2 separate regions of the Homo sapiens genome follow, and region 1 is linked to region 2. The links come from fine-mapping of genetic effects on gene expression. Tissue or cell type: thyroid. Region 2 holds a variant in brackets; the other region holds the start of a gene. All regions are shown on one strand. Distances are between the middles of the regions.

Region 1 (8,101 bases), 100 kb before region 2:
GAGCAGGGGTGGCTCTGGTGGCTTTGGGGTTGTGTGAATGAGTCTGGAGCAGAGGTGGCTCTGGTGGCTTTGGGGATGTGTGAATGAGTCTGGAGTGGGGGCCACTCTGGTGGCTTTGGGGATGTGTGACTGAGTCCCTTTGTCTCTCATTTCCTTAACAGAGGGACATTTCCCTTCCCTGGTCTCAGACACAAATGAGCCCTGCCCAGGGTACCCCGCCACAATACAATTGCTGGGTCCCCCAGCCCCCTCCTCAGACCCAGAAAGCCCCATAAGTGAGAGGAGGGCCCGGTGGGCACCTGGAGGCCTTGTGCCTGCTGGCAGGGGCAGTAGCCGGGTGGGAGCTGTCACGTGGGGCTCAGGCCCAGCAAGACTGTCACCTGATGCTTCAGGGCGGCCAGAATCCGGGTTTCTGTGTCAATCTCTCCGTTGTAAAATGTTGTAAGATGTTGGCCGCACGCAGTTTGGTTTATTTTCCTCCGACGCTGCAGGCCACACAGAGCACACTTAGGGGCTAGACTCCGCCCTTTGTCCCCCAGTTGCCCCCTGCTCTGAGGGTTTGTGACAGCTCTGTCCCCTTGTGGCCTCTGCCTGGGGTTTCTGGCCCCGGGGCAGCCCCGCAGCTGTGCCCTCTCTGCCTGTCACGGCCCAAACCCAGAGCACTAGCACCTTTGCTTGAGCCTCCACTGCCCTCCTGGCGCTGGGCTGTTGGGTGTAGACAGATTTTACACATCTGTGGCTGGGGCCAGGGAGAGGTTATAGCTAATTCCTTAACGCTGACTAGAGATGCCTTTTTTAAAGATCTCTTTAAAATTCCTCAGCCATCCCCACCTCCGGAATTTCTGGCTGGCCGCTTCTCCCAGATGCCTACAGCATTCCCAGCCCCCTGTTTCCCTCCTCCTGCCTCCCACCTCGGGCTGCCCATTTCTCTCTGATTTCTTATCCCAAGCAGTCAGGCCTCCCTCCCTCTCTGGAGCTGGCCCCTCCTGCCAGCCAGGCCCTGCCTGTGGTCAGCAAGCTTGGGACCAGGCTGTGCTGAGCCCACAAAGCCAGTCCTCTCCTGAGAGCCAGCCTCCGGCGTGGGAAACCATTTCATCCCATCCGGATCCCTGGCGGTTCTGCTTTGCTGCGTTTACACCAGTGGCCATGACGGAGATTCTCGCTCACATCTGTCCAGCCTGGGCACTTTTATGAGGCATTTTCACCAGTGGGGTCCAATGTAATCCCTTTATTCTTATGAGATAAATGTTCATCCATCCGTTAAACCAAATATCTATGAAGCACCCAGTCTGTGCTAGGCACGGGGACTGTAGCAGTGAACAAGTTGTTACGGTTCTTGCCCTCCTGGCTTATGGCATAGGATGGAAAAAAAGTCATCGGGTGACAACAGGACGCCCCCTGAGCCTAATTGAGAGTGAAGGCGGTCAGAGACAGGGGCAACTAACTTCTCTGAAAGACGTTCTAGGGCAGGGGAGGGACCCGCAGCTGGAGGGCAAGCAGGTCTCAAAGGCCCCTCCGAGGAGTCAAGGATCTGGGCTTTATCCTCTGTTTTCATTCTTTTCAGAGACAATTCAGTACATGCTTTAGTATTTTTATATGTTTTTTGTTGTTGTTTTTGTTTTTTTTTTTACAGCAGTAAGGTAGGAAATCCTTGTCTGGCCATGAAATTTGGTTTGGGATCTAAAAGATACAGTGTTCCCGTAAGTTTGAGAGCGTGGGCTAGGCACAGTAGTTCATGCCTGTAATCCTAACACTATGGGTGGCCAAAAGTGGGAGGACTCCTTGAGTCCAGAAGTTTGAGACCAGCCTGGGCAACATAGCAAGACCTTGTCTCTATTACAAAATTTTTTAAAAATTAGCCAGGGAGCCGGGCACAGTGGTTCATTCTTGTAATCCCAGCACTTTAGGAGGCCGAGGTGGGAGGATCACCTGAGGTCAGGAGTTTAAGACCAGCCTGGCCAACATGGTGAAACCCCATCTCTACTAATAAATAAAAAAATCAGCCAGGCGTGGTGGTAGGTGCCTATAATCTCAGCTACTCACTAGATTGAGGCAGGAGAATCACTTGAACCTGGGAGGCAGAGGTTAGCAGTGAGCCATGATTGCGCCATTGCACTCCACAGGCGACAAGAGCGAAACGCCATCACACACGCAAAAAATCAGCCAGGCATGGTGGCACATGCCTTGTAGTCCCAGCTATTCAGGAGGCTAACGTGGGAGGGTTGCTTGAACCCAGGAGGTAGAGGCTGCAGTGACCACAGTGGTGCCACTGCATTCAACCTGGGCCAAAAAGTGAGACTCTGTCTCAAAAAGAAAAGAAAACGTGTACAGCACTTGACAGTTAGTTTATAAAGCACCTGTTGCTGCCTGTGGGCCCCAAGCTGCCTGTGAGATGAACCGTTCCATCCCGCTTTACTGATGAGCAAGTTTGTCTGTTTATGTCTCTGTCTCCCAAAGACGATGGTATTTATGTCTGGAACACAGGAGGTACTCAGGAGACACTGGTTGATTTGCACTAAACAAAGACTCTTCATGAGGCTCTCTTACTTTTTATTTTATTTTATTATGATGATGATGATTTTTGAGACGGAGTTTTGCTGTTGTTGCCCAGGCTGGAGTGCAGTGGCGAGATCTCAGCTCTCTGCAACCTCTGCCTCCCAGGTTCAAGCGATTCTCCTGTCTCAGCCTCCTGAGTAGCTGGGATTACGGGCATGCACCACCACGCCCAGCTAATTTTGTATTTTTAATAGAGATGGGGTTTCTCCATGTTGGCCGGGCTGGTCTTGAACTCCTGACCTCAGGTGATCCTCCCACCTCGGCCTCCCAAAGTGCTGGGATTACAGGCATGAGCCATCACCTCTCTCTTACATTTTATATGGGGCCCTCCCAGCTCCTGGAGCTGTGGCTGTCACCCCCCATCTGATGGAGGGGTCAGGTGAGCCTTGTGGGAATCCCAGAAGCTGGGGACTGGGAAGGGCCCTGTTCAAGGGGCTGGACGCTCCCTGTGGTGAAGCCCAACTCTACCATTTGTTGATTGCACAATGTTGGCACAATGTTGGGCAAGTTATTTCACTCTGTGAGCCTCAATGTCCTCAACTGGAAAATGGGGAGAAGAATAATCTCTACCTCACGGAAGTAGTTCATGTTAGTTCATGTGAAATCAGACATCTAAAAGTGCTCTGCGAAGCAGGCAGGAAGCACCGGCTGTGCCCTGCCTTCACTGGGATCACTCTGCCCCCACCACAGGGACTTGGGAAACTGCTTGGTTTTACCATCCAAGAGACCTGGGGGTGGGAGATAAGGAGCAAACCCTCTACTTCTTCAAGCCCTCACTCCAGCAAATCCTCCAGGCAGCCAGGCAATGCTGAAGTCCCTGTCCAAGGGGGTCTAGGCTGAGCCCGGGTGGAGTGGGTTCTTGGGCCAAGGTGCCTGGAGGGGACTGAAGGCCTCTACCCAAAGTCCTCATGAGAACTGGGTGGGGGAGCCTGTGTTCAGGTGAGGGGTACGGAGGCACCTCTGTGGCACAGCCTTTGCGAGGAGGGCTGTGGAGGGAGACCTCCGGGGCCGGGGTCGAAGGACATCGTGTGGGCGCGACCGCAGTGCTGGGCGGGGGGCGGGCGCTTGGGCTTGGGCCCTGCGTCCTGTGCGTGTTGGTTTCCTGTGGGCACGTGGGGCCCTCGGAAGAGGGGAGGAGGGTGAGCACGTCCTCAGAGGGCAGACCCAGCGAGGCGTCGTGGCAGCTGCGGCCGCGGAGACGCCGGCTCCGCCTCTTGCACACGCCCCCTCGCCTGAGGCCCCGCCCCGCCCGCGATGCCCCCGCCCCCTTCCCCGCCCCGCCCCCCGGGGCGCCGAGACCCGCCCCTGGGCCCGCCCCCGGGTCCGCCCCCGGCCTCCGTTTGCGCCGGGTCTGTGCTGGCCGCGCGCCTGGCGCTCCACGCTGAGCCTCTCCGTGCAATGATTAACCCGGCGGGGCGGCCGGCGCGGGACCCGAGACGGAGGCGCGGGGCCGGGGCGGGACCCCGCAGGACCGCTCGGCTTCCTGCTCTCGCCGGAGTTTCCGCGTAGAGGGCGCATCGCCGGCCCGGGGCCCTTGGTGCGGCGTGGCGCAGGGCGCGGCGTGGGGCGCGCGTGGGCGCGGCGCAGGCGGCCCGGGTCACCATGAGGACTCTCCGCAGGTTGAAGTTCATGAGTTCGCCCAGCCTCAGTGACCTGGGCAAGAGAGAGCCGGCCGCCGCCGCGGACGAGCGGGGCACGCAGCAGCGCCGGGCCTGCGCCAACGCCACCTGGAACAGGTAAGGCCGCGCCCTCCCGGCCACCCGGAGGCCCTGGAGCCGGGGGAGGGGACCCCTGAGCCGTCCGCGGGCTAGGGGCCGCCCCGAGCCAGGAACGCTGCCGAAGGCGGCGCGGCGCTTCACAGTTTGCAAAGAACTTGCCCCGCCGGAGTGGTGCGGGCCTGGAGGAAAGTTCAGTGCAGCGTGGTTCCAGAACCCAGGGAAGGGAGCGAGGCCCGCCAGCGCCCGGGGCTGGCCCAGAAGCGCCCGGCGGGTGGGCGGCGGGGTGGGCCGGGAAGCCGCGTGCCCGCCTCCTACCCGGGGTCTTTCCACGTCTCCACTGCGGTGCTCGTGACAACCTGGGAGGCTAACGGAGCAGGAAGTATTTTTCCCATTTTGCGGCTGAGCACGGGAGCCTCGGGGCTCAGTGGGTGGGTCGCGCAGGCTTCCTGTGTCTCTTTAAGCTCCCTTCGGCTTTCCCTTGAGAGGCCCCCTGTCCTCCAGCTGTCAGCAGGGGGTGCGGCAGCTGCGAGGCATTCTTTAGAGGACTCTCCTCCAGGGGTCATTCCCAGACAAGCAGGGGCCTGGGAAGCCCCTTCTCCCAGCTTTGTTTGAGGAGCAAGTCCGGGATCTGGAAAAGAGACGGTTTATTTAGTGGAACTCCCCAGCGTCTCTGCTCCCTAGGAAAATGAGAGGCAGGAGAAAGTGAGGCAGGCTGTTCGCGGGAGGCAGTGGACACTGTTCGGGGGAGGCTGTGGACACTGTTCGGGGGAGGCTGTGGACGTTGCCCCTCTCGCGCCCACACCTGGCAGTAAAATCTTGCCAGATGCTCCACCGGCTGTGGTCTTGGCCACCGGGAACCCGGCTGTCACTTGGACACACGTTATTTTCAGTTCATTGAATGCATTGTGAGCGTCATGGTGGGCTCAGGGCTGCCAGCGAGACCCTCTTCAAACGTGGTCTCTTCTGTCTCTGAGTTGCAAACTGCTAGAGGGCTGTCACATGCCTGCCTCCGTTTCCCTCTCCGTCAGTGGGTATTCGCATTCCTCCCTGTGGGGAGGGCTGGTGTGGGAACAGTGAAGGAAGGACTCCTGTTGGGAAATCTCCCTGACCCAACGACTGCACAGTGTCTTAAGAGCTGTGTTCTCCACCAGGCACGGCGGCTCACACCTGTAATCCTAGCACTTTGGGAGGCCAAGATGGGAGGATTACTTGAGCCAGGGAAGTCGAGGCTGCCATGAGCCATGATGCCACCACTGCACTCCAGCCTCGGTGACAGAGCAAGACCCTATCTCAAAAAAAAAGAAGAGCAGTGTTCTCCTCCAGTATTGAGATGAAAGCCATCTCTCTGTCCTTGAATCTCTGCCGTGATTTAGAGGAAAGAGTTAAATAGACTTATTTCAAATCCCAACTCTGCCTCTTCCCTACTCTGTGGTCTTGAGCAAGTCAGGTCCTCAATTTCCTTATCCATAAAACGGGCAGATAACAGTGCCCACCTCATGGGGCTGTTGTAGGGATGAAATTTGAACATGCAAAATAAAGCCCTCAACACAGTGCTTAGCACATAGTAAGTCCTCTGTACCTCACAGCTCAACCCCAGACTCACGCAGTGGACCAGTGTCGGGGTGTCCCTGTAGGGATGGCATTTGGAGGGCTCCACAGGAATCAGTCAGTTCCTGAGCACCCACTGACAGCCACTTGGTGAGCTCCCTCCCACCCCCGAGGTGGGGCGTCCTGCTGCGGGTCCCCAGACAGGTGGGGGCACTGGCTGGTTGCTGGCTTAGACACTGCCCTCACCCAACCTTGGGTGACCCTGGAGTGGGCTCTGAGTCTCAAGTGTCTTCTCAGAGTTCAGGGAGGCCTCAGGGGGACTCTGCCTGAGCAACCCCCGCCCCACCAGATTTCACTCAGCAGCCTGGCAGATTGCAGAGAAATGCCAGCCCCTCCCCGCGGCACCTGCAGGGCTCCAGGTCTCCCAGCCCTTAGGCCTACATCAGCTCCCACCACCCCAGGCAGCAGGGGCACGGCCATTTCCTGCACTCCTCTTATGTGCCAGGCCCCAGGCCAGCCCCGTTCACTGCCCTTAACTGACTTTGCCACTCTCCTAGCCCAGCGAGGTATTACCAGCACCCCCCACCGAGAGATGCAGAAGGGCAGAGAGAGCACCCAGGAGACATGCCCAGCTCATCCATCACCTGCACAGGATGCAGCAGAGCCTGCGCCCCAGCTCTCCTCCCCAGCAGATGTGGGAGATGGAGCCAAGAGAAGGCAAACTGGCTTCACCAGCCAAGTCCCTGAGTGGAAACTGCAGGGAGCAGGGCACCCCTTCTGGTCCCTGTCTGCATGCTCCTGCTCCTAGCGGTGCTCCCTGCCAGGGCCCCCTAGGACAACAGATCTGTGCAGGGTCGGGGACAGGCGTGTCATTCTGCAGGGCCTGGCCGTGTACTCCTCATTATGAGTCCAAGACACACCCCCTTTTATCTGTGTGACTGTATTAGCTTCCCAGAGCTGCTGTAACAAAGACCACAAACTCGGTGGCCTAAAACAGCAGAAATTTGTTCCCTCACAGTTCTGGAGCCAGAAGCTTGAAGTCCAGGTGTCGCTCCCACCAGAGGCTCTAGGGGAGGAGCTTCTTGAAGCTTCTGGTGGCTCTTTGGCTTGTGGCTGCATCACTCCAATATGTACCTCCCCATGGCTTTCATTTCCACGTCCAAATCTCCCTCTCCTTTCTCTCTCTCTATTTTTTTTCCTTTCTTGAGACGGAGTTTCACTCTTGTCCAGGCTGGAGTGCAATGGTGTGATCTCAGCTCACTGCAGCTTCTGCCTCCTGGGTTCAAGCAATTCTCCTTCCTCAGCCTCTGGAGTAGCTGGGATTACAGGCGCCCACCACCACGCCCGGCTAATTTTTTGTACTTTTAGTAGAGACGGGGTTTTGCCATGTTGGTCAGGCTAGTCTCTAACTCCTGACCTCAGGTGATCTGCCCACCTCGGCCTCCCAAAGTGCTGGGATTACAGGTGTGAGCCACCGTGCCCAGCCTCTTTTTTGTTTTCTTTTGAGACGGAATCTTGCTCTGTCACCCAGGCTGGAGTGCACTGGTGCAATCTCAGCTCACTGCAACCTCCACCTCCCGGGTTCAAGTGATTCTCCTGTCGCAGCCTCCCTAATAGCTGGGATTACAGGCGTGCACCACCATGCCCAGCTAATTTTTGTTTTTGTTTTTGAGGTGGAGTCTCACTCTGTCACCCAGGCTGGAGTGCAGTGGTGCAATCTCAGCTCATTGCATTCTCCGCCCCCACAGGTTCAAGCAATTCTCCTGCTTCAGCCTCCCAAGTAGCTGGGATTGTAGGCGCCCACTACCATGCCACCATGCCCAGCTAATTTTTGTATTTTTAGTAGAGACAGGGTTTCACCGTGTTGGCCAGGCTACTCTCAAACTCCTGACCTCTGGTGATCCGCCTGCCTCAGCCTCCGGAAGTGCTGGGATTACAGGCATGAGCCACCACACCAGGCTCCCTCCCCTTTCTCTTGTAAAAACACTAGTTATTGGATTTAGGGCCCATCCTTAGTTAAGGATCATCTCCAGGTCCTTAATTAAATACCGCTGCAAAGACCCTATTTCCATCAAGTGTAAGGCTTGCTCTGTCATGAGAACTGAGTCATTGATTGATTGATTGATTCATTCATTCATTCGTTTATTCATTCATTCATTGACTGTGCCAGCACTGGGCTGCTCAGGGCATAGATTCAGCAGAGAACAGCCTCCTGGAGCTTAGAGTTCCCAGAGGGAGGCATTGGTAAATAAACAAGGAGGTAAGTAAATGCAGGTGGG
Region 2 (8,101 bases):
GACTCTGAGACAGAAGGTGGCAGGACGTGGAAGGGGCCGAGTGAGGGGGTGCCTGGGCCCCATGTCCCTTGTACACTCCCAGTGCCACCCAGGTGCGCATGGGCTCCACAGCTGGTACAGGGTGGGGGGCCGTAGAAAATCAAGGTTGTTGTTAGTTTGCCATACCAACAAGCATCAGGAGCATTCAGAAGGGGAGGTCTCAGGCAGTTTCCCAAACTAACTTGGGCAAGGAACCTTTTACTGCATTGAACAGAACCCTTTGAAGGGACGGGCCCAGGGGCCCTCATAGCCACCAAAGCTGTGTGTGGCCTCTCCCTGTACATTACCCCTCCTGGGTCTACACCTTCTGTTCCCCCAGCCTTTGCATGCAGCACCCCCAAACACATCGTCCCTTGCATATGTCCCCTTGTGTGCTTACCTGCGTTCTGTGCCAGTCCCCTACTGTGGCTGTCCTCTCTCCACCCCCCACCACTATGCAGACACCACCTCCCATGCACACACCCCCTCCCATGCACACACCCCCTCCCGTGCACACACCCCCTCCCAGGAACACACCCCCCCATGCATGCACCTCCTCTCATGCACCCACCCTCTCCCATGCACACACCCCCTCCCATGCACACACCCCCTCCCAGGAACACACCCCCTCCTGTGCACACATACCTGCTCTCATACACACACACCTCTTGTGCACACGCTTCTCCATCACTAAGTTGACTAAGTCACATGCTCAGCACAGACTGGGTGTTCAGAGTGAAAGACTAACCTAAAGTAGATTGACTCATGGGTCCTTAGATGGCTGTCACATGACCCCCAGGCCACCAGACCCACCTGCAGGACTGAGCCTTCTCCAGCCCAAAGCAGCTTTGGGTCCACAGTCTTGAGCGTGGGCCCGGGCCTCACGCCCTCTTAGGTCTGCCTGCTTCCTTCCCTCCCTCCATCACCCTCCTCAAAGCCACATGGGCCTCGCACCCTGCACCCTCTGCATTGGCCGTTTCCCATTGCTCAGAAGGAACCACCTGTTCCTCACCTGTGTATGGCCTTGGGCGCCCTGTCATCCTCTTTCATCTGTCCCTTGCTGCTGGTGTCTGCTGTGCTGGCCACACTGCTTTCATAAGGCGGCCACCGAGCCTCCTTCCTGGTGAAACTCCCCGGCCCAGGAGAGCTGCTGCTGGGGGAGAGTTGGCAAAATAGCGAGAGCAGCACCTCTGCTGGAATCCCTGTCTGTGTGAGTGAGAGGCCCCCAGGCCCAGGGGAGAAGCTCAGTCTTAGTGAAGGGAAGTTAGGTTCTGAGGGCCTTGGAATTTGCTCCCCGACAATGAACTGATTGAGCTTCATTTCTGAGGCCAAGCCCTGGCCGATCTCTGGGTGTCCCTGGAAACATTTATGTGCCCTTGTGAGGACAGGGAGCACGGCACCTGGCCTGCTGCAGACTCCCTCACTGCTGGGGACAGCTCAGGACGTGACCCTGGCGGGGAGGCTGTGCCTGCCACCACTTCCAGATGCCAGCATCTAACTGCTAAAGCCAAGGGACTCAGGGAGTGGGCTCGACCTGGAACCCCCAACTCAAGATGAACAAAGGCATGATCGGACATAGAAGCACCCAGAAGACTTTGGGCTGGTTGCTTCATGAGAGTCCCCCCAATATATGCATTCTATCTGGTCTGTTAAAGAATCTTCTGACCACAGCTGAAACTGCAGTGGCAAAGGCAGAGACCTGGCGGGGAGCAGGTGCCGGGAGCGACTTCCACCAGTGCACCAGTGCTGCTGCTGCACGGCGAGACCTGCAGGATTCATGGGGCGAGCTTGGATCCTGGTGCTGATTACCCCAGACAGTGAGGCTGGCTTTCCCCAGGAGGTGCTCACCCCAGTGAGGAGCCGATGCCAGCCTGCAGCCCACTCTTGGTGTTTACCAGGCACACAGGGAGAGATGGATGCTAGATCCAGGAAGAGCTCGTCTCCTGGGGTCCTCTTGAGAGGACGCATTCCCTTGTCAGGTCATTTAGGCACGGAAAGACCTGTGACCTGTGGGTCAGCTCTCCCCGAGGAGGCTGCTGCTGGGCCAGGAATGAGCTCACGATTTGCTGTTCTTATAAAGACAAAAGTGCCTGCAAAGACAGAAAGCGAATTGGTGGTTGCCGGGTACCGGGAGTGTGATGGGGAGAATGACTGTTGAACAGGTCTCAGTTTTCTTTTGGGGTGATAACAGTGTTTCAGAGCTGTAGAGAGGGGGTAATTGCACAGCTTTGTGAATGTACTAGATGCCTGAATTGTTCACTTGAAAGTGGTTAATTTATGTTATGTGAATTTCAACTAAATTGGACAAAAAGCACCCCTGACAACAAATTGGTACCTTGTGCTCTTTTATGTGCTTATCCAAGATTCCTTTACTATTAGGTGGAAGTAGTAAGCATGGCTTCCATGAACAGTTGTATAGGTTGTTCACAGCACAAGGCTAACCAGATGAGAAGCTACCATCACCTGGTGCTTTTTTCACTCAGCGTGGGACAAGCATCTGCCCAGAGGAAAAGGCATCTTTTTCTAACTCATGCAAAGGTGCTCTGTGGGCTTCTCGGCCTTGATAAGAAGAGCCATCAGGCTTACTTCTCCGCAGCCTTTATGAAAAAAATTAACACCCCGTACATTATCCTCCCTATCCATTCCAACCGGATGGCTTTCTTGTGGCCAGATGCATGCTCCTATTTTTGAAGCGGGTGAAGAAACAAGTCTATGTCTTTGAAACCCAACTAGTAATTTAGTTAATGACTTCCTGTGCTGAGCACGCGGGCAGATGCATTGACACTCAGAGGATTTCAGTGTGCTGAACAGAAGGCACTGGGGAGAGCCCAGCGCTGGGGCCAAAGGAAGGGTGCCTGCTTTTACAAGGAGGCGCCCAGAGTGGGAAGAGGAGCTGTGCAAAGACATTGGCCTCAGTTTCCCTCTCTTGAAAAAGTCATTTGCGAAATACAAAAGTGGCTATCCTGAGAAGTGAGGAGGAGTGAAGAGTTCTCAGTGGTTCGTGGACTCTTCCACCCCTCTGTGTTCAGGTGGAAGTCTCGACCTGGGTTTTTCTGAGAAAGTGACTCAATAAAGGATGACCTTGGTGAAGTATGCCCCGGTGGCTTAGCCCACATGGTGTTCGAGACAGCACTCTGGAAAATGAGTTTTGAAGTTACTTCCACAACGGGTGAGCTGAAATCATGCATGGTGTGAGGTCAGATGTGCGTGATTTCTCTACATCAAAGCAGACAACGGGATGGGAGCAGGCGTGGATGGCAGCCCACAGTTCTCAGAGACGCTGAGTGTGTGGAAGCTGGAGCCAGGCCACTTGGTTCAAAGCCCAGCTCTGCCCCTTACTGATTCACCTCTGTGAGTCTCAGTTGACTTGTCTATAAAATGGAGATAATAGTACCTGGCTCCTAGGGTCATTGGGAGAATTAAACGTGTAGAAGGCCTGCAGTTCAGGTGGTATGGGCTTTTGTCAGAGGGCACTCTGACATCACTTAGAAATCAAACGCACAGGCCGGGCACGGTGGCTCATGCCTGTAATCCCAGCACTTTGGGAGGCCGAGGCGGGTGGATCACGAGGTCAGAAGATCAAGACCATCCTGGCTAACTCAGTGAAACCCCGCCTCTACTAAAAATAATAGTAATTAAAAAAAATTAGCCGGGCGTGGTGGCAGGCGCCTGTAGTCCCAGCTACTCAGGAGGCTGAGGCACGAGAACGGCGTGAATCCAGGAGGCGGAGCTTGCAGTGAGCC[G/A]AGATCACACCACTGCACTCCAGCCTGGGTGACAGACTCTGTCTCAAAAAAAAAAAAAAAAGAAATCAAACGCACACAGGAGAAGCTGGCATCCTTGGTCTCCAGGCTTCCGGGCAGTGCGGGACCAGCCGAGCCTCTGCAGGTGGGCACAGGCTGCTGCGGCTTTCTCCCGAGGCAGTTCTGGGAGCTTCTGTCTGCAGAGCACCCCACCCACAGCCTCAGAGAGTGGGGCCACGTGGGTGGGTTAATTACAAGATGTGCTCCAGGTGAGAACCTGGACAACCTGAGCTGAGGGATCATGGCCTGACCGGCTCAGTGTCAGGCCCTGCAGAGTGCTGGTGGAGGGTTAGGGGGTCCTTCTGGAGCCCTTCCTTCTGCAGATGGCAGGGCAAGCCCTTTCCCACAGGTGACATGAAGACAGTGCTTGCTAGGTGCAGCAGGGCAGGATGGAACGTGGTCCATGGGAAATGGGTAGAGCCTACACCATAGGGGGTGGCGGGCGACAGACGCAGAGCACAGTGTCAGGACTCTGGCTTTGTAATGAAAAGCAAAATGTTAGGAGCTCACCTGGAGGGAAGGAATTGCTTGCCTTAGAAATGCAGCAGGCAGCCGGGTGTCTGAGGTAGAAGGGCCTGTGGTGTTGGGGGTCAACGGCAAGGGCTGAGCAGTCAAGCATTCCTGGGTTCAAATCCCAGCTCATCCTCCTTGTGAGTTTCCCGGGGCTGCCGTAACCATGATCGCAAATGTGGTGGCGTAAAACCAGAAATGTATTCTCTCACAGTTCTGGATGCCAGAAGTTCAAAATTGAGGTGTGGCCAGGGCCGTGCTCCCTGGGAAGGGAGAAGCCCTTCCTTGCCTGTCCAGCCCATAAAGGCTGTCAGCAGTCCTGGGCCTTCCAGGGCTGGTGGCCACATCATGCTGTCGTCGACACTCTGCTTTGCCTCCGTCTTTACGTGACCTTCCGCCCTCTGACTTCTCATCTTCGTGTCTGCCTTAGAAGGATGCATGTGATTGCACTGAAGGTCCACCTGGGTAGTCCAGGATGAGCCCCTCCTCTCAAGGTCCTAAATTTAATTGCACCTACAAAGACCTTTTTCCCAGATAAGGTCACATTCTCAGGCTCCACGGATTTGATATGGATGTCTTTCCACGGGCAACAATCTGGCCTACCACATCCACTTACTAGCTGTGTGACTTTAGATAAGTCACTTAACGTCTCTGAGCCTCAGATGTCATCTGGGAAATGAGGACCGGGGCCCACGGTGCATGGAGTCTCCATGTGGCCCGGTGCTGGCACCTACTGGGTGACCATAGCTTCCATTATAGGGAAAGCACGTTTGGTTTCAATAATGAGTAGGTGATTTTCATAACTGAATCTTCTGTGTTGTGCCCAGGTATTTGAAGTACACACTGGACCAATACGTTGAGAACGATTATACCATCGTCTATTTCCACTACGGGCTGAACAGCCGGAACAAGCCTTCCCTGGGCTGGCTCCAGAGCGCATACAAGGAGTTCGATAGGAAGTACGTGCCCGCAAGCCTTCAGGGACGTGGGTGTGGGCTGCTTGTGGCAGGAGGAGGCATTGTGGCCACAAGGGGTCGCAGAGTGTGCAGTGGGGGAGGGGTCTGGTAGGGCGGAGGGTGGAGGGTGAGCAAATGTGGGGCAGTGGAGGTTCACCTCCCCTCTGGGCCAAGCTCTGGAATCCCGGGCAGGGGTTGGCACTCATTTTTTTTTTTCTTTCTTTCTTTTTTTTAAGAGACGGTCTCACCCAGCCACCATGGCTCACACCTGTAATCCCAGTACTTTGGGAGGCCAAGGTGGGTGGATCACCTGAGGTCAGGAGTTCGAGACCAGGCTGGCCAACATGGCGAAACCCTGTCTCTAGTAAAAATACAAAAAAAAAAAAACCAAAAACAAAAACAGAGACAGTCTCGCCCTGTTGCCCAGGCTGGAGTGCAGTGGTGCAATCATGGTTCACTGCAGCCTCGGCCTCCTGGGCTCAAGCAGTCCTCTTGCCTCAGCCTCCTGAGTAGCTGGGACTACAGGCGTTCACCACCATGCCTAGCTAATTTTTGTATTTTTTTTTGTAGAGACGGGGATCTCACTATGTGGCCCAGGCTGGTCTCGAACTCCAAGCTCAAGCGATCCTCCCACCTCAGCCTCCCAAAGTACTGGGATTACAGGCAGGAGCCACCATGCCAAGCCAACACTCTTGTTCTTAAAGGGCCAGACAGTCAGCATTTTAGCTTTGCAGGCCTGTTGCTCTATTGCAACAACTCTGCTGGACTGTGTTCCAGTAAAACATTATGGACGCTGAAATGTGAATTTCATGTCATTTTCACGTGTCATGAAATATTCTTCTGTTTTTTTTTTTCAACCACTTAAAAACATAAAAAGCCATTTTTAGCTTGCAGCCTGTACCAAAGCAGGAAGCAGGCTAGGTTCATCCTGCCTGCCCATTCTCCCACCCCTGGTCCAGTGAATTACTGGCAAAGAAACAACTGCATGACCGTTTCTTCACTAAAGCCTCTTCTTGCTTTCACAGCCCTTTACAGTCTGCAAGGGGCATTCTGATGCCTCTTGTTGGTGAGATGGCAGCCTCATTTTACAGATGAGGACATAGGCCCCAGGGAGCAAGTGACTTACCCGTGGTCACTCAGCTTGTGTGTGGTAGGGCAGGATCCCACCCCAGGCCCCCGCCTCCCTCTCCCACCCAACGCTACTCACCGCTTGGCCATGGCCTGGAGCCGGCAGACTTTTCCTGAGGGACGTCCGGCCTAATAATCAACTTGGCAATATATCTGGCTCGTAGACTGCGGCGATGGGCGTTGATGTGGATATCCTAGATTCCTCTGGGTTTTCCTTCTTCAAAGTCCTTTCAAACCTGTAACAGAAATCTGCTTCACAGATATCTGAGTCAGTGGGACAGTGGAAGGCAGTGCCTGAATGTCCCAGAAGTCCTCCCTCCAGTTGCCTTTTGGGTCCTGCTGTCATTATCAATAGGACCTTCGGAGGGACTTCTTGGTTCCCCATCCTATGTCTTAGGGAAAGAATTGTTGCTGTATTTTGCAGTCATTTACTGGGCACCTGTATAAGCTGGAGATGGCCTAGCCCCAGCGCATGTCCTCCTCCAGGAAGGCTTCCTGGGTTGTCCTGGGAGAATCAATAGCCCCTTCCCTGCAGCCTCACTGTGCCTAAGCAGACACCAATCCTAGCTAGCACTTAGGGGTTTGTGAACAGGTCTGCCTCCTGCACTAGGCTGTGATCCCGGACCTGTCTCTGCATCCCTTGCAGGTGGGAAAGGATCTGCATATGGCAGCCTTTTTTTTTTTTTTTTTTTTTTTGAGACAGAGTCTCATTCTATTGCCTGGGCTGGAGCACAGTGGCGAGATCTCGGCTCACCACAACCTCCACCTCCCAGGTTCAAGTGATTCTCCTGCCTCAGCCTCCTGAGTACCTGGGACTACAGGCGTGAGCCACCATGCCCGGCTAATTTTTGTATTTTTAGTAGAGACGGGGTTTCACTATGTTGGCCAGGCTGGTCTTGAACTCCTGACCTCGTGATCCGCCTGCCTTGGCCTCCCAAAGTGCCGGGATTACAGGCGTGAGCCACTGTGCCCAGCCGGCAGGCTTTTATTAAGCGTTAGATGGGAGGATAGAGGAGTGAAGTGGTACTGGCAGGAAGTACCAAGGTTCCAGCTGGCGTAATCAGGAAGGCTGCATGGAGGAAGCAGCCTTTGAGCTGCCTGTGGAGTGGTGGGCAGGGTGTTGTGAAGTGGCAATCACTGGATTTTGCTTCTGGTACGAGGTGTGGCCAGATGCAAGAAAGAGCAGGGTGGACTTTGGTGCAATTGGTGGGGGTCTGGTCTGTAGGGTTCCCGTGGGGAGCCGTGGAGGGAGGCAGCAAAGGAGGGAGGGGCACAGAGGATGCTGGACTGTGTTTAAGAGGCAGCAGGGAGCCATGGCAGGTGCTTGAGGAGAAGCGAGTGATGTGTTTAAAGCAGCCCTTTCAGGAGGCTCAGGCTCACAGCAGGATGTGCACAGTAGCCCTGTCTTGAGCTAAAGCAGATGAAGGTTTTGCCCTCTGCACTTCCCCACGTGAGAAACGAAGATGCACCCGCAGATTCCTTGAGGCAGCTCCCCCACTTCTCAGTTGCCAGAAATCAGCCCAGAGAAACAAACCCGTAATCAGCCCAGGGTGCTTTCCCTTCCCTTTCTCGAGGGGGCTGCTGGTTCGCACATAAGGAGTGGGTCACTCCCGCTTGGGAGAAAGCAGCAGAATTCCTTCACAGCCAGGTAAGATGTGCCAGTGGTCGATGGATGAAATCTAGCCGGGG

Which allele goes with the higher level. Alleles are on the strand shown, and positions count from the first base shown. SD is a standard deviation of normalised expression in the study named.
In carriers of allele A in region 2, the expression in thyroid of the gene that starts at base 3,888 in region 1 tends to be higher than with G alone (moderate effect, 0.48 SD a copy in GTEx).

Evidence for each region. PIP is the estimated chance that this variant, and not a neighbour inherited with it, causes the effect.
Region 1: it holds the start of PRR5-ARHGAP8, and the variant in region 2 is fine-mapped to the expression of PRR5-ARHGAP8 in thyroid (GTEx, PIP above 0.99).

The regions. Positions count from the first base shown.
Region 1 is chr22:44,698,317-44,706,417 of GRCh38, forward strand. It overlaps PRR5-ARHGAP8 (PRR5-ARHGAP8 readthrough), which reads left to right and starts at 3,888. Exons shown (of 15, transcript NM_181334.6): 1 at 3,888-4,292. The coding sequence starts at 4,159. It overlaps PRR5 (proline rich 5), which reads left to right and starts at 3,888. Exons shown (of 8, transcript NM_181333.4): 1 at 3,888-4,292. The coding sequence starts at 4,159. RefSeq lists an enhancer at 973-1,513 and a silencer at 3,762-4,171.
Region 2 is chr22:44,803,152-44,811,252 of GRCh38, forward strand. It overlaps PRR5-ARHGAP8 (PRR5-ARHGAP8 readthrough), which reads left to right. Exons shown (of 15, transcript NM_181334.6): 7 at 5,156-5,287. It overlaps ARHGAP8 (Rho GTPase activating protein 8), which reads left to right. Exons shown (of 12, transcript NM_181335.3): 4 at 5,156-5,287. Among named protein-coding and RNA genes, the nearest start is that of ARHGAP8, 55 kb to the left of the region's middle. RefSeq lists enhancers at 3,342-3,897, 3,898-4,453. The variant G/A (reference allele first, on the strand shown) is at 3,762.